3 linked regions of the Homo sapiens genome follow. The protein of the gene in region 1 purifies or fractionates together with the protein of each later gene. This does not show direct contact. Each region holds a gene or a part of one and is shown in the gene's direction. Other genes may lie near its edges.

Region 1 (10,197 bases):
TCTTTACATATCCACTCATACATATTTGGCATGCATTCACTTTAAAATTCTGTCATTTTAAAACCAAATTATGTTCGGCTTGGTACAGTGGCTCATGCCTGTAATCCCAGCATTTTGGGAGGCCAAGGCAGGAGGACTGCTTGAGGCCAGGAGCTTGAGACCAGCCTACACAGCATAGCATGACCCATCTCTACAAAAAAATTTTTAAAAATTGGTCAGCCATGGCAGCATGTGCCCATGGTCCCAGCTATTCAGTAGGCTGAAGTGGGAGAATTGCTTGAGTCCAGGAGTTCGAGGCTGCAGTGAGCTGTGATCATGCCATCGTACTCCAGCCTGGGCAATGCAGTGAGACCCCATCTTTAAAATAAATAAATAAATACCAAATTATATTGTTCTTTTTGTTTGTTTATTGTCGTGCATGTGTTTGTGTGTTTTTGTGTTATTTATATGTGTATGTCTGTCTATCTGTGTAGCAAGGAGCTGTACCTCCAACCAGTTCAGTTCCTCCTGTTGCCGGGGCCCCATCGGTTGGACAACCTGGAGCAGGATTTGGAATGGTGAGTGATGACGTGTGCTAAAAATTGTAATCAACATTTCTAAATAATTTGCCAAATCCCAAATTACTAAGTATTCCTACAGAATATAATTTTTCCCAAAACACAGTAAGTAAAACTTAAAAAGTTGTCATCTGCTTTAAACCTTAGGTAGTCTACACATGAAGTGATAAAATGAGTTATAAAATACTTATGTTCTACCATCAAATTAATTTCTATAGTACATTGTTATATCATTTTTGCTATAAAATTTACAAAATATAGTATTAGCCCAATCATCAAAATCAACCCTTCATTATTATACTAGGACTTTTTACTCACCAATTTTACCAGCCAATTTTAGGACCATCTTTCATAAAGAAACAAATTTTTCTCTTTCCAAGAATTATGCTTACAGAAGATGAATAAACAACAACAAAGCTTGGTTGGGATGGGGATACCATGTGGCCAACCAGGCTTATGCTACCCACCCACCTTAGCGACTCTCTCCCTCACAGTACAGCCTCACATTATCCCTAATTAAAATTACAAATTATGCTTCCTCATAGTCCTGGATTCCTCAAATATTGTCAGAAGTACATAAAAGCAATAAATGTCAGGATAGTGCCCTAGTGAGTTCCACTCATGCTCTGAACCACTCTCCATTCTTCCTCCTCAGCCTCCTGCTGGGACAGGCATGCCCATGATGCCTCAGCAGCCGGTCATGTTTGCACAGCCCATGATGAGGCCCCCCTTTGGAGCTGCCGCTGTACCTGGCACGCAGGTCAGTTTCTTCAATGTCCACAAATCAGTGACATTAACTAATAAGTGTAAAACATTGGTGTAGCAAACTGTTTAAAAAGTGTTTTTACCTAATGTAATCCTCATACCTGTTGCTTCAGAAGTAAAGGGAGCTTGGAAGACAGATCTGCAAAAGTGAGATTTGGGGGGGAAAAAGTGATGGAAATAACTCACTGTCTAAAGATCCCTCCATTCTCTTCCTACTTAATTCATATTGGTTCCTGAGAACATCCAGATATTCAGGGCATCCAAGGCATGTGTCCCAGAGAAATGAATGCTTCTGGTCTGTAGTTTTAGTATGTGTTCCCAGCGTTAGCCAGAAAGGTTGGCAGCACAGTCCTCCAGACTGCCATGTCCACCCAAGACTCGTGACACTAACTGCAATAAGTTTGCCAAACTGCAAAGTCTGTGAGAATACTCCCTTTTAGAATCTCCTCACTCCAGACGCAAGACACATATTTGTGAGTCCCCAGGACCACCCCCACTTCAGACTAGCTGGCTACAAATTCGAGGTTTTTCCATGGCCAGGTTAGATAGTTTCCTAGAATGATTCACAGAACTCAGGAAAGTACTAAACTTATAAGAGTTTTATTGTAGTAAAAGGATACAAATTAGATCCAGTTATAGGAAGAGATGCATAAACATCATCTGGGAAAGTTCTAAACATGAAGCTTCTTTGTCCTCAGAGGTGGGTTCTCCTGTGGACATCATCATGTGACAGTACACATGCAGTATCGCAAGCTCACCTGAGCTTCAGCATCCAGCATTTATTGATGCTTCATTATGTAGGATTGGTTGGTTGAATTGTTACCCATTTTGTGGAACTCAATCTTCAACCCCTGTTCCTCCCTGAAGATCAGGCTGGTTTCATGTGGCCCAAAGACCCAGCCCTAAAATCTCATGGTTGGGCTTTCTGCCTCCACTCTGAGTCACCTTGTTAGCATAAACTGTCAGGTGTTGTTCCCAGAGCCCACCTTGAATAACAAAGACATGCCTATCATTTGAGAAATTATAAGGATTTAGAGGTTCCCTTTCTGGGCAAAGGAAAAAACCTCAGTTTAGGTAAAGCTAAATTCCTTACTACACACTGTGCTACTTACCCTTCAAAAATGCCAAAATATGTTACACTTTGTTGAACCGTTTTGCTGCTAGTGGTGCTAGTCTTAGTGATGAATCATGCTTTCCTGATTCCTCTTTTAAATTGTCTGGCCAAGGTGATGTTACATGTAGAACCAAAGAAGTTTTCATCATGAGAAATTGACTTGGATGGGCAGGACACCAAATTACTACTTTGGTAGCAGCATGCTTTACAAACTAGAGCAAATAGCTCAAATATATTTTAATGATATGAGTAAATGTTTTCAGTCCTATAATATTTTTAACTTATCAAATCAGTATTTATACTGTCTTATCCATGGAATACCTGCTGCTGTGAACTTTCTGAGTATACTTTAATCCCTTTTGCTTCCTTGATGCATCTCTAAATCCATTGACCTGTTCCCAAAATTTCCTTTCAGCTTCTTCACTTTGCCCCTCAAAAGCAACAGGGACCAAGAGAAAGAATGGTGGATGTTGAAAGACAGAAATTTAGAATGTGAGAAACCCTAGCCTTCATGGCCATTACTGGCCATAACTGGCTTCAGGAGAAATTTTCTAGTCTATGTGAAGACTGGTGAACCCTGTGTAGTGTTGTTTTTGGGGACAGTCAGGAAGGTTTTGGGTATAATGGTTGAGGTTAGGTATAACTTAGATATACTTAAATTCTAAGGGATCTCATTTATCATAAATATTTCCTTGATGTTTGAATAGTTCCATGACTATCATCTTTTTGAAAAAAAAGAAATATTTCTGTTATTATGCACTTGGAACAATGTTACTGAGATTTCTTTTAACCTTATTGTGTTTGATATACTGAAAGCTTCAGAAATAAATAAATATAATTTTATTACTTAAGGCAGTTGTTTTTATTGTGTAATACCAAAGTTAGCAACAATTTATTTACTTAATTAGAAGAATGAAAATGAAAAATAGATAGTATGATGGGAATACATTGTTTCAATCAGTAATTGAATTCATAATAAGCCAGGTAATGATACACCATATTTATGTAATTTTTAGATTATATTTCCTATATCAGAGAAGAAGCATAATTATACTAGATAATAAAATAAATGTGAGTTTGTAGCTTCAGAAAACAAAGTAGTTTTTTTATTACTGATGCCTGGACTATCGCAGCATTCTTTCATTGGCTGGTATCATGATATTGTCATCTCACCTAATTATCAATTATGGACCAATCTTTGAATTGATTTAAGGAAGTTCAAGCCTTACTTTATTTATATATATATCTCTCTCTATGAAACAGATCCCAGGTTTTTTGTTGTTATTTTTTTGTTTGCTTATTTGTTTATTTGAGATAGGTTCTCACTCTGTTGCCCAGGCTGAAGTGCAGTGGTGCAGTCATAGCTCACTGCAGCCTTGAACTCCTAGGCAACAGGGATCCTCTCACCTCAGCCTCTCGAGTAGCTGGGACCACAGATGCAAGCCACTGTGCCCAGCTATTTTTTTTTTTATTATTTTTTGTAGAGATGAGGCCTTGCCTTGTTGCCCAGGGTGGCCTCGAACTCCTGGCCTCAAGTGATCCTCCTGCCTCGGCCTCCCAAAGTGCTGGGATTTTACAGATGTGAGCCATCACACCCAGCCCATATCCCAGTTTTAAACATGGAAATTTGACAGATAGATAATATAATTAGTCAGTAGTTTCTGGACATAGGACCAAATCTCAAAATCCATACTTCTGGAACTCTGTTCACTGAACTAATAAAAATATACAACACTGCCCCACAGTCCCAGCATGTTACTACAAGCATAGGAGATTAATTAGACTCAAAGCCTAGATGTCAACTATTACTCTATAAACTACATGAGATTTTTCAAGACCTTGTATCCTGTAAAAGTCAGCTCCCAGAAGTTATATCTGTGACACAATGAAAAAATAATTTAGATTCTGGTTAAACAGAAACAAGGCAAGTTAATTATTTGTTACTTTTGCAACAAGTCCAATATGATTCTTTCCTATAGTATTTAATAATTAGTTTTGGCCTTCTCTGAGAGCTGAATAGATTGCATTAGAATTTTAGTGGCATTCACTACCAGGAAACTATTTGGTCATGTGAAACAAACAGTGCCCTCAAACTTGACTGATTTTCACTTAAAATAATGTATATGAAATTCTAGTATATTTAGCTAATAAGTGTAAGTAATTTCTTAAATAGCTTTCTGCAAACCGTTTCCTATTTTTCCTTCAAATTCACTCTCACTACAGGAAAAGCCATTTAAATAGATTTATTAGTTTAGAGGTACTAATGACTGAAAGTAAAAATGCTTTTGTATAGAGAAAACGGTTGTTTGTTTGTTTTACTGTTTGTTCATAATATCTTTATGTTACTAGTGTTTCACATCTTCCCTAAGTCATACCCATATTGTTCTACTGGAGTCCCCAAATTTTACTTTGGCTAAATCTGATGTCAGAGAAGTTCAAGAAAGCCAAATATCAGTTGAAGTATATTTTACCAGTCCAGAATTAAACACAACTCTGTGACTATGTAGAACAAGTAGATTTCATAAGCCTTTAACCATCTAATCTTCTGCAGGTTTGTTTTCTTTGATATGTGTTCTGCCTAATGCTTTTCTCTCTCTCTCTCTCTCTCTCTCTCTCTCTCTCTCTCTCTCTCTCTCTCTCTCCCCCTCTCCCTCTCTCCCCCTGCCCCCTCTTCCCCCCATGTCTCATTCTCTCTCTGCTTTCTATTCCTGCTCTTTGGGGCTGGCTTTTTCCCATTAGCTTTCTCCAAGCCCTACACCTGCCAGTCAGAGTCCCAAGAAACCTCCAGCAAAGGACCCATTAGCGGATCTTAACATCAAGGATTTCTTGTAAACAATTTAAGGTATCTAATATTGAGCTTTTCCTGTAGGCTTGTAATAATGAGCTATACAATGCTTAGCTATTTCAGAGGTACTCATTATTTCTGCGTTTTGAATAGCTGTGTATAATAGTAATAATTTGAGTGTTTATACTTTTAAATTTGATATTAAAAGCTCTCTTTAAGAGTTTTTTAAATCTTAATTTATGTAACTAGGAGGGAAAGTAACCTCCAAATTGTCCTTATCCTGGAAAGCACAACGATTAGCTTTAATAAAGCAAAAAGGTGCCCAAGCTACTTGGTAAATTAGAAAATTACCACTTTATTACATGATGACTTGAATTTATAGAAAGCTAACATTTATACTATTGCATTTAGAAATCATCTAAGAATATATTTGACTGCATAATTGTATTTTTATTTTGTTTATCCTTCTTTTGCCTCATAAAGCTTAGATTATTACCCTTTACATTTCTGCATTCAAGCAGAGTTTTAAATTTCTAATGTTCTAGTTTTAAATTTCACAAATTTCATATAATTTATGAAATGACTCATGCTGAAGTTATGGAAGGAAACGAATGAAGGAAAAATGTTTACTGTTGACCCCAGCACCTAACACAGTGGGTAGGTTCTCAACAAATCCTTGCTGAATGGATGAACATAATTTACACGGTACTTTTCACATCCACTTCTCAATAGAACAGTCATGTGAGATAAACTATCCAGATATTTTTTGTCTCCATTTCACAGCTAAAAGAACTGATCCTTGGGCATTAAGGAATTTGCCCAGGGTCCCACAGGGAAGAATTGTAAGAGGCTCAGTGTTTTTGGACTCTTGTCCAATGTTGTTTTCAGTATGCACCTGCTGTGCTACATATATTTCTTAAAACCCTTCCCTAATGTCTACTAAGATTTTTGTGGATTCTTGATTTGTTTTTTTTTTCTTATACAAGATTAATGATGCATTATTCTAAGGTATTAACATCTCAGTCAAGTAAACTCTCCTTATGCCCAACTTTTCTATTCCACTTTGGATTGGCTAATGTAGACATAAGTGAGACAATGAACACTTAATAGTTTCAGGAGTGACCAAGGAAACTGCATAGAGCAGCCTGTATTCACCTCTTACTTAGTAAATGTTGCCCTAATCATATGCCAGGAACTTTGATAAGTACAGGAAACAGATATGCTTGAGACAGTCCTTGCCTGAGAGAGACAGAGACAGACAAAGAGAAAGAGAGACAGAGACAGACAAAGACAGAGACACAGAGAGAATTACTATTTTATGAAGAGTTATCTATGCGGCTAAGCCTTAAGACCCCACAAATGTTTCCAGCAGAAATGAATGATGCATGAATTAGCCAGGGAGATGAGTGGGAAGTGGCTGAGGAAAGGCATCGGGTCGCCAGGGATCTCTCTGTTCTCTTCTATTCTGTCACTGGTTCAGCTGTTTAGAAAGTGACTCATTGAACACCATAACTGAATACATGAAAAAATAATGTAAGGTCATTGCCATGCCCCCTTTTTCTTTAGCTGCCCTTTTTAAAGGTTGGCTGCTCTTAGATACTGAATGCTATACCGAATGTCCTGCTACTAAAATTTCTAATATGTATCTAAATTCAAATTTTTGTTGATATAATTATTATCTAAAATGAAACTATACATCAAAAGTTTTTTTTTAATTTCTGGCTAAACTTTAAAAATTTTAAGCTTGTTTTAAAGAGCTATGAAAAGTATGTAAATTTGAATTTGTCCATGCAGAGACCTTTTTATGTAAAAGTTGTTTTCAGAAACTATGAAGTAAAATTGCAAGGGAGGTAAAATGTTTGAGGACTATGTAATAATCTTGTTTTCTAATTCTAGTTTTTGTTTTCTTTACAGCTGCAATATTTGTGACTGAATAGGAAAATAAATGAGTTTGGAGACTTCAAATAAGATTGATGCTGAGTTTCAAAGGGAGCCACCAGTACCAAACCCAATACTTACTCATAACTTCTCTTCCAAAATGTGTAACACAGCCGTGAAAGTGAACATTAGGAATATGTACTACCTTAGCTGTTATCCCTACTCTTGAAATTGTAGTGTATTTGGATTATTTGTGTATTGTACGATGTAAACAATGAATGGATGTTACTGATGCCGTTAGTGCTTTTTTGGACTTCACCTGAGGACAGATGATGCAGCTGTTGTGTGGCGAGCTATTTGGAAAGACGTCTGTGTTTTTGAAGGTTTCAATGTACATATAACTTTTGAACAAACCCCAAACTCTTCCCATAAATTATCTTTTCTTCTGTATCTCTGTTACAAGCGTAGTGTGATAATACCAGATAATAAGGAAAACACTCATAAATATACAAAACTTTTTCAGTGTGGAGTACATTTTTCCAATCACAGGAACTTCAACTGTTGTGAGAAATGTTTATTTTTGTGGCACTGTATATGTTAAGAAATTTTATTTTAAAAAATATAAAGGTTAACGTCCATAATAAATACTTCTCTTTGAAGCTACCTTATCAAGAACGAAAAATCGTATGGGAAGAATCCCCTATTTATCACTGCTATATTAAAATATATATATTTTAATTATATTTGACAGGTTTTGCATCTAAATTGACCTATTTATTCATTCTTGATTAAATGCACTGAAAAGTAAAGGGTCTGTTTGTGTCATGTTCATGAAAATGCGGTTAGAGAGGTGCTATTCAAGTGATTCTGAAGGCACCCCAAGGTATATCTGTAATTTAAAGATTACTGCAAATATCTTTACTTTACTGTGGGTTTTTAGTACATCTGTTAATTTAGTGTTTCTTTGTGTGTTTTGTAGACTAGTGTTCTTCCATCCTTCAACTGAGCTCAAAGTAGGTTTTGTTGTAACATTGTGATTAGGATTTAAACTAATTCAGAGAATTGTATCTTTTACTGTACATACTGTATTCTTTAAGTTTTAATTTGTTGTCATACTGTCTGTGCTGATGGCTTGGCTTAAGATTTTGATGCATAAATGAGGTCACTGTTGATCAGTGTTGCTAGTAGCTTGGCAGCTCTTCATAAAAGCATATTGGGTTGGAAAGGTGTTTGCCTATTTTTCAAATTATTTAATAGATGTATGGTACCATTTAAAAGTGGTTGTATCTGAATTTACTGTGGGGATAACATACACTGTAATGGGGAAAAATTACCTAAAACCAATTTCAAAATGGCTTTCTTTGTATTTCAGTTTAAAAACCCAGTGCATGTACGCCCTCTGAGATGCAATAAACACCTTGAACAAAGAAATGCAAACATAACGTTTCTCTCTTTGATTATGTTTGGGAAAAAGGTCTGTTTCAAATGACACACACAGCAGACAAAATACTGAAGATTTTAAAATGCTGTTCATGCCAATAGAGTTTTGATTATTTTATAAAAAATTAAAAACAAGGAAAAAGAGCAACTTTAACAAGCCTTCATTAAACTTGGGTCTCTGTAACTGCTGCCAAATGAGTTGAAATTCCATATTTCAAAATGTATATGTATTTTTATGGTGAACTTTCTTTTATTTATTTTTTTAATTGTACTTTAAGTTCTAGGGTACATGTGCACAACGTGCAGGTTTGTTGTTACATATGTATACATGTGCCATGTTGGTGTGCTGCACCCATTAACTCGTCATTTACATTAGGTATATCTCCTAATGCTATTCCTGCCCCCTCCCCCCCACCCCACAACAGGCCCCGGTCTGTGATGTTCCCCTTCCTGTGTCCAAGTGTTCTCATTGTTCGATTCCCACCTATGAGTGAGAACATACGGTGTTTGGTTTTTTGTCCTTGCGATAGCTTGCTGAGAATGATGGTTTCCAGCTTCATCCATGTCCCTACAAAGGACATGAACTCATCCATTTTTATGGCTGCATAGTATTCCACAGTGTATATGTGCCATATTTTCTTAATCCAGTCTATCATTGTTGGACATTTGGGTTGGTTCCAAGTCTTTGCTATTGTGAATAGTGCCACAATAAACATACGTGTGCCTGTGTCTTTATAGCAGCATGATTTATAATCCTTTGGGTATATACCCAGTAATGGGATGGCTCGGTCAAATGGTATTTCTAGTTCTGGATCCTTGAGGAATTGCCACACTGACTTCCACAATGGTTGAACTAGTTTACAGTCCCACCAACCGTGTAAAACCGTTCTTATTTCTCCACATCCTCTCCAGCACCTGTTGCTTCCTGACTTTTTAATGATTGCCATTCTAACTGGTGGGAGACGGTATCTCATTGTGGTTTTGATTCACATTTCTCTAATGACCTGTGACATTGAGCATTTTTTCATATGTTTGTTGACTGCATAAATGTTTTCTTTTGAGAAGTGTCTGTTCACATCCTTCCCCCACTTTTTGATGGGGTTGTTTGTTTTTTTCTTGTAAATTTAAGTTCTTTGTAGATTCTGGATATTAGCCCTTTGTCAGATAGCAAAAATTTTCTCCCATTCCCTAGGTTGTCTGTTCACTCTGCTGATAGTTTCTTTTGCTGTGCAGAAGCTCTTTAATTAGATCCCATTTGTCTATTTTGGCTTTTGTTGCCATTGCTTTTGATGTTTTAGTCATAAAGTCTTTGCCCATGCCTATATCCTGAATGGTATTGCCTAGGTTTTCTTCTAGGGTTTTTAGGGTTTTAGGTCTTACGTTTAAGTATTTAATCCATCTTGAGTTAATTTTTGTATAAGGTTTAAGGAAGAGATCCAGTTTCAGCTTTCTGCATATGGCTAGCCAGTTTTCTCAACACCATTTATTAAATGAGGAATCCTTTCCCCATTGCTTGTTTTTCTCAGGTTTGTCAAAGATCAGATAGTTGTAGATGTGTGGTGTTATTTCTGAAGCCTCTGTTCTGTTCCATGGGTCTATATATCTGTTTTGTTACCAGTACCATGCTGTTTTGGTTACTATAGCCTTGTAGTATAGTT
Region 2 (11,239 bases), on another chromosome or scaffold:
GTCTCACATGCACTCAGAAAACAGCTGCAGCTGCAAACTGCCCTGTCCTCCACATCTGCCTGCTGCTGAGCGTCTTGGAGATGCCTTAGAGCCATTGCTACCTACGATGAGAAGACAACGGCAATGCCAAGTGTGATGACCAGCCCCCAAGATGACTCAAAGTTTTGGGGTAATTTGTTATTGTTTGGGCTCAGAAAATGATACCCCAAAATGAAGGCTTCAGAAGCATAAGTTTCTCTCTGACTTTCTCCCACTTTCCTGTCTCTAGCCCCTCATTCTCCCCTGAGGCTAGCCAAAGAAACTAGAATTCCTCTTTTTTTTTTTTTGAGAGGGAGCTTCGCTCTTGTTGCCCAGGCTGGAGTGCTGTGGCGTGATCGCCGGCTCACCGCAAGCTCCGCCTCCCAGGTTCAAGCCATTCTCCTGCCTCAGCCTCCCGAGTAGCTGGGATTACAGGCATGTGCCACCACACCCGGCTACTTTTGTAAGGTGAGTCGTAGACACCAGAACCTCTTTTCCCCAAAGCCAGTCATAAAACTTAAAAGTATTACTCTAACTTTCCCCCACATTTCTGCATAAAAACTGGCCATAAAGAAATGATCTGACTTACTTTGCTTGATTGTAGGTCATAAGACCCCGATTCCAGAGAAAGTCCTGCCCTGTACCTAGAAGGAAGGAATGTTGCACAGAAAGGCCAAGAGGAATCTAGACAGGCAGACCCTGCTGTCTCCCCACTCAGTCTGTTATTGTTATCAGAAAGGGGCCCCAATCTAGACCCCAAAAGAGGGTTCTTGGATCTCGCCCAAGAAGGAATTCAGGGTGAGTCCGTAATGTGAAAGCAAGTTTATTAAGAAAGTAAAGGAATAAAAGAATGGCTACTCCATAGACAGAGCAGACGGCTGTCGGCTGCCCACTTTTATGGTTATTTCTTGATTATATGCTAAACAAGGGGTGGACTATTCATGCCTACCCTTTTTAGACCATATAGGGTAACTTCCTGACGTTGCCCTGGCATTTATAAACTGTCATGGTGCTGGTGGGAGTGTAGCAGTGAGGATCTCCAGAAGTCACTCTCATTGCCATCTTGGTTTTGGCGGGTTTTGTCCAGCTTCTTTACTGTCATCTGTTTTATCAGCAAGGTCTTTATGACCTGTATCTTGTGCTCACCCTCTATCTCACCCTATGACTTAAAATGCCTAACCATCTAGGAATGTAGCGCAGTAGGTCTCAGCCTCATTTTACCTAGCCCCTATTCAAGATGGAGTTGCTCTGGTTCAAACACCCCTGACATTAGCATTAGATCATACCCTTTTTTCTTCAATCATATTTCTACATGGCTGTTCATACTTCATTGACCCTAAGTATAAAAATAGACAGTTTCCCCCTGTACTTTTGGGTCTTCATTCTGAAGACTCTTGTGTAATGTAAAACTTATATTAAATAAATTTATACATCTTTTCTTCTATTAATCTGCCTTTGTTCAGGTGATTTTATAGCAAACCTTCTGAGGGTGAAGTTTCCCCTCCCTTCCTACATTATGTAGCGATAGACAACTAACACAAATTTTATTAAAAAGAATAGTTTTTCCATAACAAAACCCTAAAATGTTAGAATGGTTTTAGAACTGAGCAGAGGGTAGAAGCTGGAAGGACTTTGAGAACAATGTTAGTGAAAGACTAGAGTCTTTGCTGGATGCGGTGGCTCACACCTGTAATCCCAGCACTTTGGGAGGCAGAGGCGGGCACATCACCTGAGGTCGGGAGTTCGAGACCAGCCTGATCAACATGGAGAGGCCCCATCCCTACTAGAAATACAAAATTAGCCGGGCGTGGTGGCTCATGCCTGTAATCCCAGCTACTCGGGAGGCTGAGGCATGAGTATCACTTGAACCCTGGAGGCAGAGGTTGCGGTGTGCCGAGATCATGCCATTGCACTCCAGCCTGGGCAACAAGAGCGAAAAACACTAGAGCCTTTGTAGGTGAGAACTTAAAGGGAAATGAGGAACATGTTTTTGGAAACTGGAGGAAAAGGGTCCTTGTTATGTAGTGGCAGCAGTTTAGTAACATTGTCACCTGCAGTAATGTGCAAAGTAGAAATTGTGCCTAACCAGCTGAGTGTTCTAGCTAAGGATATTTCATGGTAGACTGTTGAAGGTGCTAACTGATGTTTTCTTGCTGATTATAGCAAAATGTGAAAAGAAAGAGATCATCTAAAGGAAGGACTTAAAAAAAAATCCGGAACTTGCAAGTTTTGAAAATTCCCAGCTTCCCCAGATGGCAAATGATGCTACTGTGAAAAAATGGCTTCCAGGCAAGGAAAAACTCCAGGACATTCCCAGCAAAACATCATCAAATGATGAAGGTAAGAGTGCGGCTATAAAATCCTTTGTTCAGACCTCAAAAGGATCTATAGCAGTGATTCATAGAATCATTCAAACAAACCATAGAGCTTGGAGGAAGTTTATAGTGTTGTGCTTTAGTGGTTTCACTGAGGGATTCTACAGAGTAAAGAAGGGTTTATCTTGAAAAGAGCTGTATGTATAATTTTTGTCCAATGGTATGAGCCCCAATTCGATTTATAGAGGATTCACAAAGTTTTCAAAACAATTCTTTGGCAGAAGCACTGCCAGCATGGACACACAGACAGAGTACAAAATGAAAAGTAGCCTTTGGACCTCCTAAATTCTACTTGCAGTAAGCAAATTGATACAATTACACAGCTGCAAACATGAACTACTTTTAATGGAAAAGGAAAGATGACTCAGAGAGTGGAATCAAGAGCTCAATGGGTGAAATAAAAAGCCATGGGGAGTCATTCCTGAACAAGGAGTAGGTTTGAACCCTAATCAAACAGCTTCCAAAATGTGTCTACCTGGATTTAAGGATTCTATGAGCCAGTGACTTCTCAGGCCTCCTGTCTTTCCTCCTTTTTGAGCAGGACTGTCTGTACCACTAATCTTTTTTATTTTTATTTTAGACAGAGTATTGCTCTGTCACCCAGGCTGGAGTGCAGTGGTGTGATCTCAGCTCACTGCAACCTCCGCCTCCTGGGTTCAAGCAATTCTCCTGCCTCAGCCTCCTGAGTAGCTGGGATTACAGGCATGCACCACCACGCCTGGCTAATTTTTGTATTTTTTTAGTAGAGATGGGGTTTCACCATGTTGGCCAGGCTGGTCTCCAACTCCTGATCTCAGATGACCCGCCCGCCTCGGCCTCCCAAAGTGCTAGGATTATAGGCATGAGCCACTGCGCCCAGCCTGTACCAGTTATCTTAAACCTGTCCCACCATTGCATGTTGGGGTGTGGGAGACATAGGCATTCAAATGAACTATACTTGAGGATCTGCACTTAAAACACTACACCAAAGTGCTTCATCCACACCTGGTCCCAATTTAGATGACAGGACTCCAGACTTTGAACTGATAATATAATGGGTTGAGACTTTTGGGGACCTTGGGAAGAAGTGAGTGTATTTTACATTTGGGAGATACGTGAATCATTGGTGGCCAAAGGGCAGACTGTGACAGCCAACCTCCAAGATGGCCCCAAAGATTCCCATCTCTTGGTTTTCAAGCCCTTGTGCAGTTTCTGCCCACACTGAATAGAGCTAATCTCTAACCAATAAGCTATGTACGAAATGATGGCGTGTGACTTCTGAACTTAGGTTATAAAAGACATTGCATCTTCCATCTTGCCCTCTCTTGGATCACTTGCTTTGTGAGAATTCAACTGCCCTGTCTTGAAGACATTCCAGCAGCCCTATAGAAAGTGGTGAGGCCTTTTGCCAACAGCCATGTGAATGAACCATCTTGGAAGCAAATTCTATGCTTGTAGGTAAGCCTTCAAGTGACGATAGCACAGCCAACATCTTTACCAAAATCTCTTGAAAGACCCTAAGTCAGAACCACTCAGCTAAGTCACTCCCAGAGTCCTTGCTCACAGAAACTATGTAAGATAATAAATGTTTATTGTTTTAAGCTGCTACATTTTGATGTCATTTTCTATGTAGCAATAGGTTAATATAACAAGGGTGCTATTTGTGGACACTCCCAAAGATACTAATTCCTGGGGAATCAGATGGTTCGGATTTCTCTGCAGAGGGGTACAGAGATCTGCCTCATTGAGTCTGCCACACCTTGTCACCAGAAATTTATGGAGTCCCTTTTTAATAGTTTAATCTGGCCAGGTGTGGTGGTTCATACCTGTAATCCCAGAACTTTGAGAGGTCGAGGCTGGTGGATCACTTGAGTCTAGGAGTTCGAGAGCAACCTGGGCAACATGGCAAAACCCCATCTCTACTAAAAATACTAAAGGTAGCCGGGCATGGTGGCACACACCTGTAATCCTAGCTACTTGGGAGGCTGAGGCAGGAGAATCGCTTGAACCCGGGACGCAGAGGTTGCAGTGAGCCAAGATCGTGCCAACGCACTCCAGCCTGGGCAAAAGAGCAAGACTCCATCTTAAAAAAAAAAAGTTTAATCTGTCTGCCTCTAAGACCCTTTCTCCACAGAGTGCTCAAGAAGAATTGTAAAGTGTCAGATACTGAACTGCACAGTATTATATTTTAACTTTCTGTCAGATAACATTAAGAAGAAACAGTAATAACAATAATGATGACATGACTCCCCCTCCCCTCATCAAATACCCTGGATACAACAATGTCCTTTTAAGATATTAAAAAGGCCAGGCCTGTGGCTCACACCTATAATCCCAGCACTTTGGGAGCCTGAGGTGGGAGGATCACTTGAGTCCAGGAGTTCAAGACCAGTCTGGGCAACATAGTGAGACCCCGTCTCTACAAAAAATACCAAAACAAGTAGTGGGGCTTAGTGGCTCACGCCTGTGGTCCTAGCTACTTGGGAGGCACTTGGGAGGACTGCTTGAGCCCAAGAGGCTGAGGCTGCAGTGAACTGTGATTGAACCACTGCACTCCTGCCTGGGCAACAGAGAGAGACCCTGTCACCAAAAAAAAAAATAAATAAAAAAAATAAAAATTATTTTCATTGAATAAAAGACTTTCTAAATGTGAGAACGTTATGTTTGTAAAGGCTAAGTTGTTTCCTTTTAAGCCTGGGGGAGGACAGGAGTAGAAATAACCAAGCAAGGCACACTTCTCATTAGGTATATTAACGTTGATGTTTGAGTTGACATTTGTTGAATTTTTTTTTTCAGAATGGTGCTTCAATTCATGTTTCAAAAGCAGACACAGAAATAATTTCCAGAGAAATGAGCTGGGGGAAAACAGAAATGTGTATGGAATTGGAACAAAATAAACCTGATTTTTTTCAACATTGTATAGAATTGTTCTGAGGTTAAAAAGAAAGGTTTCTAAAAAATAAATATCTAACAAAAGCTGCACAAAGATTAGGCATACATTATCCATGGAGACATTAAAAACTATTAAAAAGGTTTTTTTACCCCACCTCATCCCCTGGTATGTTTGAGGAAAGCATCTGGAAATTCTAACTCAAAATCATCTAAGGGAATCAATGTAAAACAGACACCATTCCATCCCCTTTCATCCTTCTTAATACACCTCAGCCTCTCCCTTGACTAGATAAAAACGTAATTTTCCCTCTCCCAAATACAGTGCAAAACAAAAACTCTTCTGTGAATGGAGAGACATGGATATGGGGTAGAGGTGGAGACTTGCCTACATTACCAGCAGCCAGCCGAAAATGCCCTGTGTGTGTAAAATATGTTCCTTCAAAGGGGCATTGTGAGCACTAAATATAATTTGTGCCAAAAATAATAATGAAAGCTTAGTGAATACTCTACAGTGCAGGCATCGTTACATTTAATCCACAAAACTACCCCATGAGGTAGATATTTACCGTTCTTTTCACTTAACATCTTTTTTAAAAAGCGGAAAACAGAATGATGAATTAACTTGTCCATGGTCATAAAACTGATAGGTAGTGGCACCAGGATTTGGGGACCATCGGGCAGAGGATCTTCCAAAACCGGCTTTTAAAGAGCCACAAAAAGATGTAGCCGGGTTCTTGGCACTACAGTACTGCTTTATAAACAACAGTTCCCTTCTTTTCTCTTAGAGCCCAGTGGGAATCTAGAGGGACACCTTACATAAAGGAAAATGACTGCAACCTGGACCTGTCACTCGACAAATACTGCCTCTCCCCACCTCACTTCACCTGACGTCTCTGCCCAACCGAAGGCAGCTCTCAGAAAACCGCACAGAGGTTACCACCCCAGAAATTCTGAGATCCTAGGAGGTAGCAATGCAAATAGACAAAGCACAGTATTGCTTTGGATCGAAAATATTTGTTTGCTCATCCTAACTCCAATTCCCCTAGCCTAGAACAAACATAGCCCTTCCGCACTCAGGAAATCCCAAGAGGTCAGGTTCAGTCTGGTAAACAACACTGTCCGGGCACCTTGCAGAACACTGGGGACTGTGACGGGCGGCGACAAATTGGCACAAGAGAGACTGAAATGCACAGGGACACCAGCCTAGTGGCCGTGAAAACTCAAGTTGACACTTCCAGGGAGGGAATGGGGGAGGTGGAGCCCAATTCCTGCTTCTGGAGAGAGTAAGAGACTTCCTCCATCCTCCTTCTCCCTCCTCCTCCTCCAAGGCACGCTGAGATTTGGAGCGGAGGAGCTGAGCCCCGCGGGAAAAGCAGAAAAGGGTCATTGCCACTTTAAATGACTCAGGAAGTAAAAGGAGGCCTCCTGACGGGGAAAGGGAAAGTGGAACCGGGGCGGCGCGGGGGCCGGCGGCTGCCGCGATCTCTCCCTGGTAGCGGGAGGCTGAGCGGGCGGCGCGACGCGGGGGCCGACGGGGGCGCCGGGTGGCCGCGCCGGAAGTGCCTTGCGCGGCAGAGGAAGCGCAGGGACAGAGCGGAGCAGGCCGAGCCGGCGGAAAGGGTCTTTGCTGCTGCGCCCGGGCAGGGGCTGCCGCGGCCCCAGGTCCCGCTTCGAGACGCGGCGCGGTCCAGGCGGGAGGCGACTCCCTAGGAAGGGACCCGGGGCGGGAGGAGGAAGTGAGGCCGCGCGGAAGGAAGGCGGCGAGCCCCGGGGCCCCGAGGCCTTGGCCGCGTCACAGCACCCACATGGCCTCTGGAGTGGGCGCGGCCTTCGAGGAACTGCCTCACGACGGCACGTGTGACGAGTGCGAGCCCGACGAGGCTCCGGGGGCCGAGGAAGTGTGCCGAGAATGCGGCTTCTGCTACTGCCGCCGCCATGCCGAGGCGCACAGGCAGAAGTTCCTCAGTCACCATCTGGCCGAATACGTCCACGGCTCCCAGGCCTGGACCCCGCCAGCTGACGGAGAGGGGGCGGGGAAGGAAGAAGCGGAGGTCAAGGTGGAGCAGGAGAGGGAGATAGAAAGCGAGGCAGGGGAAGAGAGTGAGTCGGAGGAAGAGAGCGAGTCAGAGGAAGAGAGCGAGACAGAGGAAGAGAGTGAGGATGAGAGCGATGAGGAGAGTGAAGAAGACAGCGAGGAAGAAATGGAGGATGAGCAAGAAAGCGAGGCCGAAGAAGACAACCAAGAAGAAGGGGAATCCGAGGCGGAGGGAGAAACTGAGGCAGAAAGTGAATTTGACCCAGAAATAGAAATGGAAGCAGAGAGAGTGGCCAAGAGGAAGTGTCCGGACCATGGGCTTGATTTGAGTACCTATTGCCAGGAAGATAGGCAGCTCATCTGTGTCCTGTGTCCAGTCATTGGGGCTCACCAGGGCCACCAACTCTCCACCCTAGACGAAGCCTTTGAAGAATTAAGAGTAAGTATTGGGCCTTCAGAGCATAAACCTAGGGGTCAGGACACCTGGGTTTCAACTCAGGTGGCCTGGCTGTGACCACATTCGCTTTCACTGTGTCCCTAAGAAGCTAGTCTTTCCAACTTTTTGGGAGCAGTTCTTATTCACCGTTTTTGGTTGAACTCTTTTGAGAATCTGATGAAAGTTCTGGACTCTGACCTGAGAAAATACACACAAAATCTAGTATACAATTTCTAGAAAATTGCAAGTTTCTGGTCTGTGGATCCCAGGTAAAGCATTTCTTGGGAGTTTTGACCCCACTTAGGCCAATTTCCACAGCATCACTATTGTTGAAACTGGTGCTTTGTGCTAGGGCTCTTGATAAGGCAATCTTTTTGCCTACTTGAAAACATGGGAAATAGGATTTTGCCACATGAATCCAAGCAAGTGATACGTCTGCATTGAAAAGACTAACAAAATAGTTTTAATAGTAACTTCATATGTGCCCCGAGTTCATTTTAGATTCTTCGTGTTTGAAACTTAGTAGAAAAGGAGGGTAAGAAGATGGAGGCCAAATTGGGGTGGGAGTGGAAGTTCCCATGTCCTCTGTCTGGATCTTTGTCTGTCGTGGACCTTACTGGTCCCCCAGAACAGTGGACACTTCGGAAATATTTGTTGAATGAATGAATTTGCAGACGATGCACCTTTTATTCATATTGTGGATGTTTACTATCATTGAGAGAAACTGCTGGTGTTAATCGGGGAGGGAGGGGGAAATTTTGAGTGGAGTGATCAGTTCATTAAGTAATCTGTATTAGTGAACATTGTCATATTATGATGACTTTTGCTTCCCTGAATAGGGAATAGCTGGCATTGGGATAACAAATACCTTGAGAGTGAAGATCCTCTGTATTAGGTTTTCCCTTTTTTAGTGCCTATTTATAATTGTAAAATGCACATTCAGAAAGTGTGTAAAAACTTACAGTCTAACAAATAATTATAAAACAAGTACTGAGGTAGTCTCCATCCAGATTAAGAAATAGAACATTACTAGCAATATTGAAGCCTTTTCCCCATACCTTTTCCAATTATAACCATCTCTCTTCTGCATAAGTAAGCATAATCTTGACTTCTGTGATCATTTCCTTGCTTACCTTTATGCTTTTACTCCATGTGTATGCATTCCTAAACTTATTTGAACTTGACACTATGGGTGTCATATTTTTATCATGCATTCTTCTGGGTTTTGCTTCATTTTCTCAACATTGTGTTTGTGAGAGTCATCCTATGAGTGACTGTAGTTTATTCACTTTCATTACTATTTCGAATTCCATTTTATGAATATGCCACAAGTTATCTATTCTGTCATAGATGGTCATTTGATTTGTTCCCAGGTTTGGGAGCGTCGGGCTGTTACAAACAATGTCAGTGTAAATATTCTTGGTCATGTCTCGGTGTACATTTAACATACATTTAAGTGGAATATAAACGCAGGAGTGAAATTGCTGTGTCAGAGGCTATGCATATCTTCAGTAATACTACATGTTGCCAACTATTTTCCAGAGTGGTTGTACCAGTTTGAATCACTATGAAGAGTATATGAGAGTTCCTGTTGCTCTGTATCTTCAAAACTTGCTATTACTGTATTTTTCATTTTTGTCAATCTTGTGGCTATGTAATGGTATTTTATTGTGGTTTTAATTTTCATTCCTCTGATTACTAATGACTTTGAGGATCTTTTATACTTCCTCTGTGAAGTACCTAGTCAGTTCTTTTGCCCATTTTTCTATTGAGTTGTCTTTTCTCATTATATGAGTTTTTATATATCTGTTTTTTTTTTTTTTTTTTTTTTTTTTGAGATAGAGTCTTGCTCTGTTGCCCAGGCTGGAGTACAGTGGCTAGATCTCAGCTCACTGGAACCTGCGCCTCCCAGGTTCAAACGATTCTCCTGCCTCAGCCATCTGAGTAGCTGGGATTACAGGCACATGCCACAATGCCTAGCTAATTTTTGTATTTTTTTTTTAGTAGAGATGTTTTTGCCATGTTGACCAGGCTGGTCTTGAACTCCTGACCTCAGGTGATCTGCCTGCCAAAGTGTTGGGATTATAGGTGTTAGCCACTGTGCCCAGCTATATATTTGTTTCTGATTTTTTTTGTTGTTCTTTCTATGTGGGTTGCAAATATCTTCTATGTGGTTTTTCTTTTTAAAGAAGTTGTGCCTTGAATAGAAGCTCTTCATTTTAATGTGGTAAAACTTATCAATACTTTTCCTTATGGTTAGTGCTTTTTGTGTCTTGTTCTACTTAGTATTGATTTTTGTGTAGTAGAAGTAGGGGCGCAATTTCATTTTTTCTCCATACAGATGGCCAATTGCTATTGCTGTATTTATTGAAAAGCCCTTCCTTTGTGCACTGATTTGCTGTCCCACTGTCATATATCAAGTGCCCATAATATGTGTGAATGTGTTTCTTGGTTCTTCTGTTCTCTACTGTTTATCTGTTAGTATATCCCTGTGTGAACAGCATGTTTTCTCAGTTATCCCTTTATAATATGTCTTAATATCTGGTAAAGCAGGTCCTTCCATCTTGTCCTACAAGAGTGTGTTGGCCAGTTTTGGCACTTTACATTTCTTAGAATCATAGTATTAAAAAGCCTGCAGGAGTGTATTTGGATATTAAATTTATAAGCCAATATAGGGAGAATTAATATCATTACAACATGAAGTCTTCTGATTCATTAATTTAGGTCTTTTTTATTGCTTCGCAGTTAAGTTTTATATTTTTTTCCTCAAAGATTTTTCACATCATTGTAAAATTTATTCCTAGATACTTCATAATTTTATAATATTGTAGAAAATATGAGCCAGGCACAGTGGCTCACACCTGTCAGCTATATGGAAGGCTGAGGTGGGAGGATTGCTTCAGTCTAGGAGTTTGAGGCTGCAGTGAGTTATGATCCTGCCATTTCCCTCCAGCCTGGTCGACACGGCAAGACCCTATCTCTAAAATAAAAATAAATGGTTTTAAGTTTTGTTTTCTAATTGAATATAGGAATATGATTAACTTTTATATATTGTTTTTTTGTGATCTATCTGCTGAATTATCTTACATATCCTAATAATTTATCTGTAGATTTATTCTACATACCTGATTGTATTATGTGTGAAGAGAGATACTTTTTGTTTGTTTCTTTTCAATCCTTATATCTGTTATTTGTTTTTTCTTGCCTTACTGCATTGGATAGCACCCCGAGTATTATGTTGAATGGATGTGGTTGGTGGGTATTCTGGCCTTGTTCCTAGTCTAGCAGTAATTGATAACATTGCACAAATAAGTGATATGTTCTATGGTTTTTGAAAATAGATATGTTTTATCAGTTTAAAAAAATTCTAGTCCTGGTTTGCTAAGTTTTTCTGAATTTTGATTGGTTATTTAATATCAAATGCTTTTTTTGCATCTTTTGGGATGATCATGTGATTTTCTCTTTCACTTTTATGATGATGAATTACATTAATTGATTTACTTA
Region 3 (10,480 bases), on another chromosome or scaffold:
GAAGGGTCTGTGAGCTGTGAGCACCTGTGGGCTTCGTCCCTACTAGCCCCAAGTCCCTACAGGAACGGAATCTCACTTGTAAATCCCTTCCCCGGGCTTAGACACCGCGTCCCACTGACATTAACTGGCACTGGAAACTCCACCTCACTTCCACACGGAACTTGGGACAGGTCCTTTTTTAGATGGTGTGACTGGTATCTTCTTCACTTATTTCTTTCTGAGGGAGTGAAATGACAGTCGGGGGAGAGCAAGGCTCCCAATAGGTGCAAAGGCCAGCATTGCTGGGGGCTGTGAAGTCTCAGGAAAAGGCTTCTGGACTTGCAGACCGCGTTGCTGAGCAGTGACATTGACACCCCGGGTTCAGCTGTCCTGCATCTGTCCTAGGAAACCCATCCCTCCAGCTGGCCTGCATCTGTCCTAGGAAACCCATCCCTCCAGCTGGCCTGCATCTGTCCTAGGAAACACATCCCTCCACCTGCTCATTGGCGGGATTCAGCTGACCTCAGTAAGGCCTCAGCCTTCCTGGGCCCAGCCCCCTCCCTGCCCAGGACCGTGCTCCTTAGTATCTAAGTACCAGGCATGGGTCACTGTGCTCCTGGCCCTCACTCAGGCTCTAAGAACAGTAGCAGGTGCCTCAGAGGATTGACTGAGGACACATTTAGAGAACATGGGATGGTGCCCGGCACACACATGGGGAGTCAGTGGGTCTTACTGAGTACGACATGAGTGACTCAGAAAAAAATTAAAACAAACCAGCTGAATGTGTGCCCAGTGAGGGGCTGGAGGTGGTGGAAGTGTCCCAGAGCCCTGTGGGCTAATGGGAAAAGTGAAATTGGTGCCTTTCAACCACAATGCAATAACGGCTCAAATAAGCCCCAGTCTCAGTGGTTGGGGCAGCCTTCTAGGGCCAACTGTCTTGTTCTTTTCAGAAGCAACCTCTGGAGGAACAGTCTTTGCCCCTACTCCTCCCCACTACCCCCACACCATCACTCCCCCTCTTAATTTCAACATCCTGGCATCATCCAGGGCTGGAGAGGGCCAGAGAGGTCTTGGAGCTCAGCCATTGTCCATGGTACAGATGGGGAAACTAAGACCCTGAGAGGAGGGGCATCTTTCCCAGGTGGCTGGGCTGGCTGTGCCTGAACTGGGATGGGAACCCAGCTCCCACCTCTCAGCACCATCCTCCTACAGCCTCACCTGGGACCCATCCTTGCGGTAGAGACTAGCACTGAGGCTTTAGGTGTAAATGCAGAACTCATGTCCATTTATAAATGAGGTTTACCACCAACTCCCCAGAGAACTGGGAGAGCAGAGGGGATGGCAAGTTGGTGGGCAGGTGGCTGAGGGGCAGAACACCCTCCCAGTGCTGTTGCTGCTGGGGCCATTCCAGACCCTTGTGGCTACAGCACAGATGTGCCTGGTTCACTTGTAGGGAAGGGAGTGGCCCTTCTAGGTGGAAATGTGCTCATTTAGCCACTGATGAGAGCTGGGGGTCAGTGCCTACTGATGGGCCCCACCTATAGAAATAACCATACAGGCTGACCTGGACGGCAGCATTCGGGAAACAGCCACAAAGGATTAAGGCAGAGGGCACTACAGTTGTCATCTCTGCCACCTCCCCTTTATCAGCAAGAATAACACCACACGACACACCTTGGCTCTGAGTCAGAGAGAGCATTCCTGCTGTTGTTAGCTTGCCAGTTTGTTTGCCCAGGCGAGTAATCACCCACAATCACCATTGTTCCAAGGCTCCCCAAGCAGCCAGCCCAAGAGCTAGTTAAGCCAATTCTTCATCCAGGAGGAACCCCCACCCTGATTTCCCTTCAATTTGGCCAAAAAATTAATTCAACTCTTTAGCGGATAAAGATGACACACTACTGGAATTCAGCAGTCTGGGCCTGGGATACCCATCTTATAAAACCAGCTCCACTCTCTCCTCCCTGCCTATTAATCCCTGTGTCCCGTCCCTCTGCCCCACTATGGCTATTCAACTGCTGGGGAAGGCTGGCTGTCTCCAATGTTTAAAATATGATCGAATCTGAGCAGTGGAACAGGCAGTAAGTGGAAGTGTTTTGTTCAGGAACCTCGTGAGCAGGCGTTATCTAAACAGAAATGGAACAAGGAGCAGATAGAGCAGGGTGGCGTCTGCCCTCCCCCAGCACATACTCTGGGAGCCCCCACCCCACCCAGCTAGGGCAGGCACAGAGCAGCCCTGCACTCCTCATGGGTCTAGCATATTCTCTGCCCTCACCTCCCTGAGCCCATGGAGGTCGAGGCAGCAGTGAGCCATGATTGCACTATCGCACTGCAGCCTGAGCGACAGACCAGGACCTCATCTAAAAAAAAAAAAGAAAGAAAACCATTTGAAAGGGGATAGAATGGGGGAGGGACAGATATCCAAGCAGCCTCTAGGACATTGGTTGTGATGCTCTGTGATCTTTTTATCCATTCACTTCCTGGTCACTGACTGTGCTCTAAGAATGTGAAGCTTGCAAGACAAGAAAAGCAGGTTTTTCCTTTTGTTTTGCTTTTCTTCCTCACACATCATGATTTAAGTTTCTCAAACTGAGGCCTGGAATTTTGGCTTCTATGTTAGGAGAAGAGAGGGAATGATAATGCCTCAGCTGATGGTCACACTGTCCATCCATTCTGAAAATAGAATGTCGGTGAATGCTCTTCTTATGATCCCTTTTTTTTCAGAACTCATGAAAAATAAAAGTGAATGAACTCCAGTCATGCATCAAATAATAACTTTTTGTTCCAATTCTTTAGAAACCAGAAAGTGTGTGCTCTGTGAGAGCATCAAAAATGAGTTCGGTAGTAAGTCCATTTCTTGACCAGAACCTAAATCTGACTGTAAAGGAACAGAGTTTGAATGCTCCCAGGGCATTGGGGCAATCTCTTCTTGTATTGCAAACACTCAACTTTATGTTTGAGAGTGGAAATGTTGACGAATGGGTGCAAAAAAATTCAACGAATTATCCTTCTCCATTTTTATGGCATAAGCCAGGGACTATTTTGGCTGACTTCCATGACAGCTCTGTAGACATTTTTATTTTAAATGGTATCTGCCCAGAAAATGTCCCTTTTCATAGTTAACCTCTTGTGCAACAAAATCGAAGTACGTCTCCAGCACAGGGGGAGTTTTGTTAGTATTTTTATGATAAACGCTTCCAAATGGTCAGCAGCACTGATGGGAGATGCTTCTCAGAATTCAGAAGCAAAATTGTGTCTTTTTGGTGGTTTTGAGACTTCCCCCTGAAAGCACACAGATTGGACCCCTTCTCTAATGTTCCTGAGAAAATAGGTTCAAGTCCTCAAGGAAAACTTATTGAAATTACGAGGTGGTTTTTAAACTTTCAGTTACTCACAACAGAACTCCCAGTCATCCATTCCCCAAAGCGTCAGTGCCCAGAGCAGAGCTGGTCTGTCTGTAGCTGCAGCATCTGAGGGCCGAGGGCTTCCCTGGCACAGCCTGCTGCACACCAGGGAGCTGCAAGCACAGAAAAGCACCTGCCATGTGCTGGGAACGGACAGAGGTGCTATTCTTGTGGAGCTTAACAATAACTAATGAGACATCACCAACTGTTAAGGGGTATAAAGAAACGTTAAAGGGATGGGGACAGGTGAAGGAGTAAAAACCACAGGATGATCAGGGAAGTCCTCTGTGGGGAGCGTGCACAGTTTTGCAGTGTCCCAGTGTGCATGCATTGGTGGTGAAGTTCTCCCTGGTACAATTGTTCCTCCAATTTTATACCCAGCAGTAATGTCCACATCAATATAAGCTGTGAGGCCTGTGTGATATTGCCATATGAAAAGCCAGCAAGTGGATCTGTCATTCTCTGCTCAGCCACCACCACTGCATCACTCCCCTGCCTCACACCCATCAACCACCTGACAGGATGTACAGGCCAAGGTCCTCTGTGACTCGCCGCCCACTACCCAAGTGAATGAGTCTCCCCTAGAGCTTTGCTACTCAGAGGGGTCTGAGGACAACAGCATGGGCCAACACGTGCACTCGAGCTGCCTGGAGATCTTGTTCAAAGGCAGATTCTGAATGAGTAGGTCTGGGTTGGAGCCTGAGAGTCTGTACTTCTAACAAGTTCCCAGGGGATGCTGCCAGTCCACGAACCACATTTTGAGTAGCAAGCAAGATTCTAAGGTTCCACCTATCTTGGCTTTTGACATTTGGATTTTCCTTCCTCTGTCCTTTGGACATTGATTGGGATCAGGTCTGATGAACTTCAAAAAAAAAGGGCATAAGATCATCTGAGGTTTGACTTCTTGGTCATCAGGTTACCTACAAACACAGCATCACATAGTGCATTGGGTGGGGCCGCTGCTCTGCTGAGCAGCTGAGTCACACCAGATTCTCAGACAGGCACCATGGCTCTTTGGGAGGCCAAGGCAGAAGGATTACTTGAGCCCAGGAGTTCAAGACCAGCCTGGGCTGCATAGTGAGAACTCGTCTCTAAAAAAAAAAAAAAAAATTAAGTAAAATTTTAAAAAATTTAATTAGATTTGCTGAGGGTGAGGCCTGGCCACCAGTAGTGTTAGGTGATCCTAATACACCCCAGGCATGAGAATCCCTGCTGGGCAGCCCCACAGCTGACCTCTCGAGTAAATAAATCTCAGCACCTACTGCTCATCCTGCCCAGATGTTTTGTTCTCCCAAGTTGCATCACTTTTGCCTCCCCAGGGAAATTATGTGGATATTCCCAGCACAAGCACATCGCCCTCACAGGCATCAGGCTCATATGACCTCCCCCTGGAACCACCCCCAAACACACACATGGCAAACCTAAACAGCCCCCCACGCCCAGAGGATGGTGAAACCTTCCAAGTGCTGTGGAGTCTCCCAACTTTTCCACCTAGTGGGTCAGTCATCCAGGCGTCCCTGCCCACACAGAGCCTGCAGCATCGCTCTAGGAGGTCTAGGAGATGCACAGGAGACTCTGAGCTGACTATGAATTTGCTGTGAAGTTTCCTCTTTTCTGTGCTGTTCCCTCTCCCAAGAAACTTAAGGCGAGAAGCCTCAGGAATGGCGCATTTCTCCCAGGGTTTTCCATTGCAAAGCCCAACCCTAGGTGAGGGAGAGGAGCCATGCCCCTGGATGGGGAGATCACTGACGTTCATCCCACAGTGGAAAGAAAATGAGAGACCCGTGGCTGAGTGTGTTTGGGAGAGTAGGAAGTAGATCCCTTTTAAAATTCGAATGTGGGAATTTTGCATAGATTCACTTAAATTCATTAAACTACACAAGTTTCCAGACAAGCATTAGAAAACCATTTAACCCAAGTACAGACAGATGTCCTGAGAAGTCAGCAGCGTTCTGTGTTGTCTCTTACTCTGTGACTTGATTGGTATTGGTAGGCTTCTGGGACTGATGACTTGTGATCCTGTGACATTCCAGGTGTGACCCCGACAAGAAGCAGAAATGGGGAAGAAACTGGATCTTTCCAAGCTCACTGATGAAGAGGCCCAGCATGTCTTGGAAGTTGTTCAACGAGATTTTGACCTCCGAAGGAAAGAAGAGGAACGGCTAGAGTGAGTGTGCCGTGCTGAGCCCACGGAGCCCGGGGTCCCTGATCTTCCCCCAGGGCCATCATATGGGTGCTGTCTGGGTGGGTCAACAGCCACGTGCAGGGTGAAGAGTGATGGACAGGAAGCCAGGTCTGGGACACAGCTCTTCTTTCTGGCCTTGGTTTTCTCAATGAGAGGATCTGACTTGCCAAACTGACATTCACTTGTTCTCTGAATAGTTTTATTTCAACTTGACCCAGCTTCCAGGGTGATATATCCTAAGCCAGGTGATACTTAGGCCACATCTTTGAAGAATAGAGCAAAAGGTGATACATGGGGAAAGTCTCCATGCCATTCTGAAACACCTAGATGTTGGAATCAAGTCTTTAGGACAGAGGCTGCCCTTCCACCTCTCTTTTCAGCAATGCCAGGTAGCATCCCGTCCTCACCATGGGTGACCCCAGCACGGTTTTGTTCCACTCTGCCCAGTGACTGGGCTAAAACCCACCCATCCTTGTTCACTCTATCCACTGCGCATCTTCCTCCCCCCTCTATCTTCTGGGCCCCCTTATCCTTTCTTGATGTCTTTAGTAGATTGGGTCACCCTATGGGAAGGAAGCATATGAGGGAAGTAGTTAAGCAAAAGCTGAGAGGATGCTCCCGGCGAAGGGGGGGGCAGAGAGCAGAGGACAGAGGGCAGAGGGTGGAGGGCAGAGGGCAGAAGGCAGAAGGCAGATGGTGGAGGGCAGAGGCCAGAGAGTGGAGGGCAGAGGGCCCCGCTGAAGATGGCAGGAGGGAGCCTGGTGTGCCCCAGGGAGAGCACAGGCTGGCGAGGCTGGAGTGGAGTAAATGAGGGGGCCAGGAAGAGAGGCAGTTGGAGATGTAACAGGTGGGGGGCATGGGATCTGGTGCCAGTCACGGGGGTCCTGTAGAGCTTCACAGGGCCTCACCCTTCCCCTGAGTCACCACAGACCTTCGAGCAGAGCAACAGCAAGTCCTAGTTTCTGTTTCACAGCGGTGGGCTCTGTGAAGTGGCCAGATGCACTTTGCAGGCAGAGCCAGCAAGCTTGACCAGAGATCAGATGGGGGGTCTCCAGGGTGAGAGGGATCAAGGGCAACTTCAAGGTTGTGGCCTGAGCAACTTCAAGGACAGAGTTGAGGTCAGCTCTGCTGGGGAGGCCACAGATGGAGAGGTTTGGGGGAAATGTTTCAGGCATGTTGAAGTGACATCACGCAGGTGTGTTGAGCGGGTGTTGGATACATACACTAGTCCGGAGCTCAGAGGAGATGCGTTACGAGAGCTTCGTAAAGGTGAAGCTTCATATGGTGAAACGGATGAAAGGTATTTGTATTCATTTCTGGGACTGCTGCATATGTGACTTGTACAGTACAGATTTAGTGGTTTAAAACACACAGCTGTCCTGCAGTTCTGCAGGTCAGAGGTCCTAAAATCAAGTTGTCCTCAGAGCTACATTCCAGCTGGAGGCTGGAGGGAGGACCCATCTCTCGGCCTTTTCCAGGTTCTAGAGGCTTCCTGGATTCCCTGGCTCCTGGCCCCTCCTCCACCTCCAAGGCCATCAGCACAATGTCTAACAATGTCTCTTTCTGCCACTGCCTCTCTCTCACCCTCCCTCCCTCACCTGTGCCTCCATGCTCACATCTCTCTCTTTGACTTTCCTGCCTTCCTCTTTCCCCTATGAGGAGAAATATGGTTACATTTAGGAACTGCCCGTATCATCCAGGACCCTCTTCCCATCTCAGGATCCTTAATGTCATTCCATCGGCAAAGTCCCTTTTGCTATGTGAGGTGACATTTTCACAGGTTCTTGGGACTAGAACATGAATGCCTTGGGGCAGGGGGTGGCAGCATTGTTCAGCTGACCCCAGCATTTAAAGCTGCAGGGCCATAGGAGACCGCACTGGAAGGGAATTTGGATGGGGACCAGCCCCGGGGACGTGAGCTCAAGCATGTTGAGGAGACAAAGCACCAAGAAAGGAGAGAGAAGGAGCAGTAGAAGAGGGACTTTGGGTTCCCATGCTGAACAGGGTCCGCAACAAACCGTTAGGTGAAGCAAGAGCAGTTCAGCCCCACATGGAGCAGGAGGCGCTCGTGTTGGTGGGGAGGGGCCGGCGTCAGAGCCTCCCCACCGTGTGATCCCCCACTCTCCCTCGGCCCTGGACCACCAGTCACCCCTGGATTTCATTATAGCCCAGGTTTCACCACCGGCCTCGGGGGAGGGCCCAACCTGCTGGCCCTGGTACAGCCAGTACCAGCCTGGTGGCCATGGCCGGCCACGACCACCTTCTCAAAGCCTGAGCAGAGGCTGCGGACCAGCATGCAGCTGACCGCAGGGCTGACACCCTGTCCCCTTTACTCTGGCAGGAAAATGCGGTCTCACGGGCCCCGTCCTCACCCCTCCACTCTTGAGTCTCAGATCCCCCATTTCCACATTCTGAAGTCCCTCACCCTCTCTTTCCCATTCTCTCTACGTAAACTCAAATGTTCTCTCACTGTTTTCACCAGAGCAGCAATCCCTGCGTCAGCTTTGGCGTTCAGGCTGTGCCAAGGGCAGAACATCGTTCTCATTAGTAGAACCCCCTTCTGGGTGGATCCTTCCCAGGTGCATCCTGCCCTGTCTCCAAGGCAGCCCTGGCTATTGTCAGCCCTTATTTCAAATGGCAACTTGTAACTTCTCATTGCCTGAGTATAGGCGAATGCAGAGAAATGGAAAAGGGGGGAGAACCATGTTTTCCAAGGAGCAGAGGGAGGGAGCAAGTGGGGCCTGGGGGTCCCGGACAGGCACTGTCTTCCAGGGGACTGCTGAGTGGTCCGCCCTGCTCCAGTCCAGGCTTATCTGAAGCGGGTTTAGCAGAAACCCCCATGCGTTTCCTGTCTGTGGCTCACCCCCTTCTGACACCCGTCTTTCCTTATTTCATGCTCTTTTCATCATTTCACATTGCAAAGAAGGGACACACCCAGGTCACCTCCCAGAACTCTTAGGAAAGGACGCACCCAGGTCACCTCTCAGTACTCTTAGGAAAGGACTTTTGTAAGAATATGGGTTCTGATGACCCTGCCTGGTGGGCCGCTGATGGCCAGTTGGTTACAGCCGAGGTCACATTGTTCATTCTGTGCCTGAGGCTGTTTGCTCAGAATGAGCCAGTGGCTGGGGCGTTAATTGGCCCAGTCTGCTATGTGATTAGGGGGGGGCTTGTTAAGTCCCCAGATGTCTTCCGATGGGAAGGGGCCGCATGAGCGTAGAGTACTGTGTTGAAAATGTCAGTGAGCAGAGAGGCAGTGCTATGAAAAGCCTGTGTCAAGGTAGTGTTAGGTCGAGAATACTGAATGCCCAAGTGGCATTGCTATGATGGGTCTTACTATGAGAGTACATGTCAGCAGGTGACACATTTGGGAGGCAAAGAATCATGTAAACCAGTGGTCCCCAACCTTTTTGGTACCAGAGACCGGTTTCATAGAAGACAATTTTTCCACAGATGTGAGGGGCTGGGGGAGGAGGCTGGGGGCAGGGTTGGAGATGGTTTCAGGATGAAGCTGTTCCACCTCATTCTCGTTCTCATAAGGAGCACACAGGCTAGATCCCTCGCAAGCACAGTTCACAACAGACAACTATGGGAGCTCTATGAGTATCTAACGCTGCCGCTGACCTGGCAGGAGGCGGAGCTCAGGCGGGAAATGCTCTCTTACCTGCCAATCACCTCCTGCCGTGCAATTCGGTTCCTCACAGGCCAGGGACACTTACTGGGCCACAGCTGGGGCTTGGGGACCCCTGATGTAAACAGTGTGGTGGCAGAGGTAGTTAAGAGGTTTTTGAGTTTCTTATTGTTTCATTTGTGCTTGTCTTTTGTTGACTGCCCTATTGGTTAAATATGTCACTAAAAGGAGAGCTGCCTCTACCTGTGAGAAGACTTTTCACAGGTGCCTCGTGAGCCCCGGGGAGTGGCAGGGCCCCAGCGTGTGGGCACGCATCAGGTGCAGGTGACTTGAGCACCGCAAGGTCAAAACACGCCTCGCAGTGTGCTCTGCTCAAACCAGGTGGTGTGGACGCTGTGCAAGGCCACAGAGGAAACAAGCATAGAAAAAAGGCTCTGGTTCTTGGCACCAAAATTGGTTCTGCAGAGGAGCTGGCGAAAATACCAGAAATCCATGATGAAACGGAAGATAACTCTTACAATAATGAACCTCCTTCCCTGTCTTTCATCATTGCTAATCTGTGCGTTTAACCAATTTCAACATGAACAGTCATCTGTGTGCTGCCGCCACAGAATCCCGTTCTCTGTAGCGTCTCTCTGGGTGACATCCTCGGGGTCCTCATGTCTGCTCCCGGTCACCGAGTCTTAAATATCTGAATCAGCAAGAGGCTGGATGAAGAAACTGGTGCTCGAGGGACCACTAAGTAGGTGGCGGTAACAAATGTAGCAATTCAGGAGCCGCCCAGCAGTTTCCCATGTGTCTCACAAACTCTGAGAGGGAAGCCCGTGGGCGCGACCCAGCCCGAGGAAACTCAAGGCCACTGATTGGAGAGAGGAGAGAACAGGGGTGGGGGAATTGTGAAACCAAGAAACACACCATCGTTTCTTGGAAAGAGCTTTACTACCCAGAATATGCATCAGGGGAACACAGCATGCAGACTCAAGGCCAGTGCCCCAGAAACAAGTTTGCCAGGGGGTTGATTTGCTTAAGAGCGGATTCACTTAATGCACCAATTATCAAACCAAAGAAAATGCATTTCTTTTAACAGTCTTAAAATTAGCAGATGTGTGTCAGATGGATTCCTGCTCAGTATTTCTCTCCAGATGTGAGCATCAATCACGTTGAAGGACGCTGGGCAGGGTCTGGAGGTGACGCCTGCGCCTTTTCCCACAGCGTCAGAACAACACAACTTTGATTTCTCCTCTGTCAAAGCAGGGACAAACAAGCTGGTCCAGATCCCTGATA

Evidence for each region.
Region 2: the proteins of SNAP91 (region 1) and TRIM44 purify together in Homo sapiens (co-immunoprecipitation; 2 studies listed by BioGRID and IntAct, with this or other methods). This does not show direct contact.
Region 3: the proteins of SNAP91 (region 1) and MLPH purify together in Homo sapiens (co-immunoprecipitation; 2 studies listed by BioGRID and IntAct, with this or other methods). This does not show direct contact.

What each region holds. Positions count from the first base shown.
Region 1 is NC_000006.12:83,551,224-83,561,420, reverse strand, and holds the end of SNAP91 (clathrin coat assembly protein AP180), read left to right. Parts: intron 1-473; coding exon 474-557; intron 558-1,212; coding exon 1,213-1,317; intron 1,318-5,175; coding exon 5,176-5,268; 3' UTR 5,269-5,278; intron 5,279-7,135; coding exon of another isoform or gene 7,136-7,150; 3' UTR 7,151-8,536; downstream 8,537-10,197. UniProt on the Homo sapiens protein: Adaptins are components of the adapter complexes which link clathrin to receptors in coated vesicles. Clathrin-associated protein complexes are believed to interact with the cytoplasmic tails of membrane proteins, leading to their selection and concentration.
Region 2 is NC_000011.10:35,656,043-35,667,281, forward strand, and holds the start of TRIM44 (tripartite motif-containing protein 44), read left to right. Parts: upstream 1-6,732; 5' UTR 6,733-7,069; coding exon 7,070-7,738; intron 7,739-11,239. UniProt on the Homo sapiens protein: May play a role in the process of differentiation and maturation of neuronal cells. May regulate the activity of TRIM17. Is a negative regulator of PAX6 expression.
Region 3 is NC_000002.12:237,487,990-237,498,469, forward strand, and holds part of MLPH (melanophilin), read left to right. Parts: intron 1-5,413; 5' UTR 5,414-5,437; coding exon 5,438-5,547; intron 5,548-10,480. UniProt on the Homo sapiens protein: Rab effector protein involved in melanosome transport. Serves as link between melanosome-bound RAB27A and the motor protein MYO5A.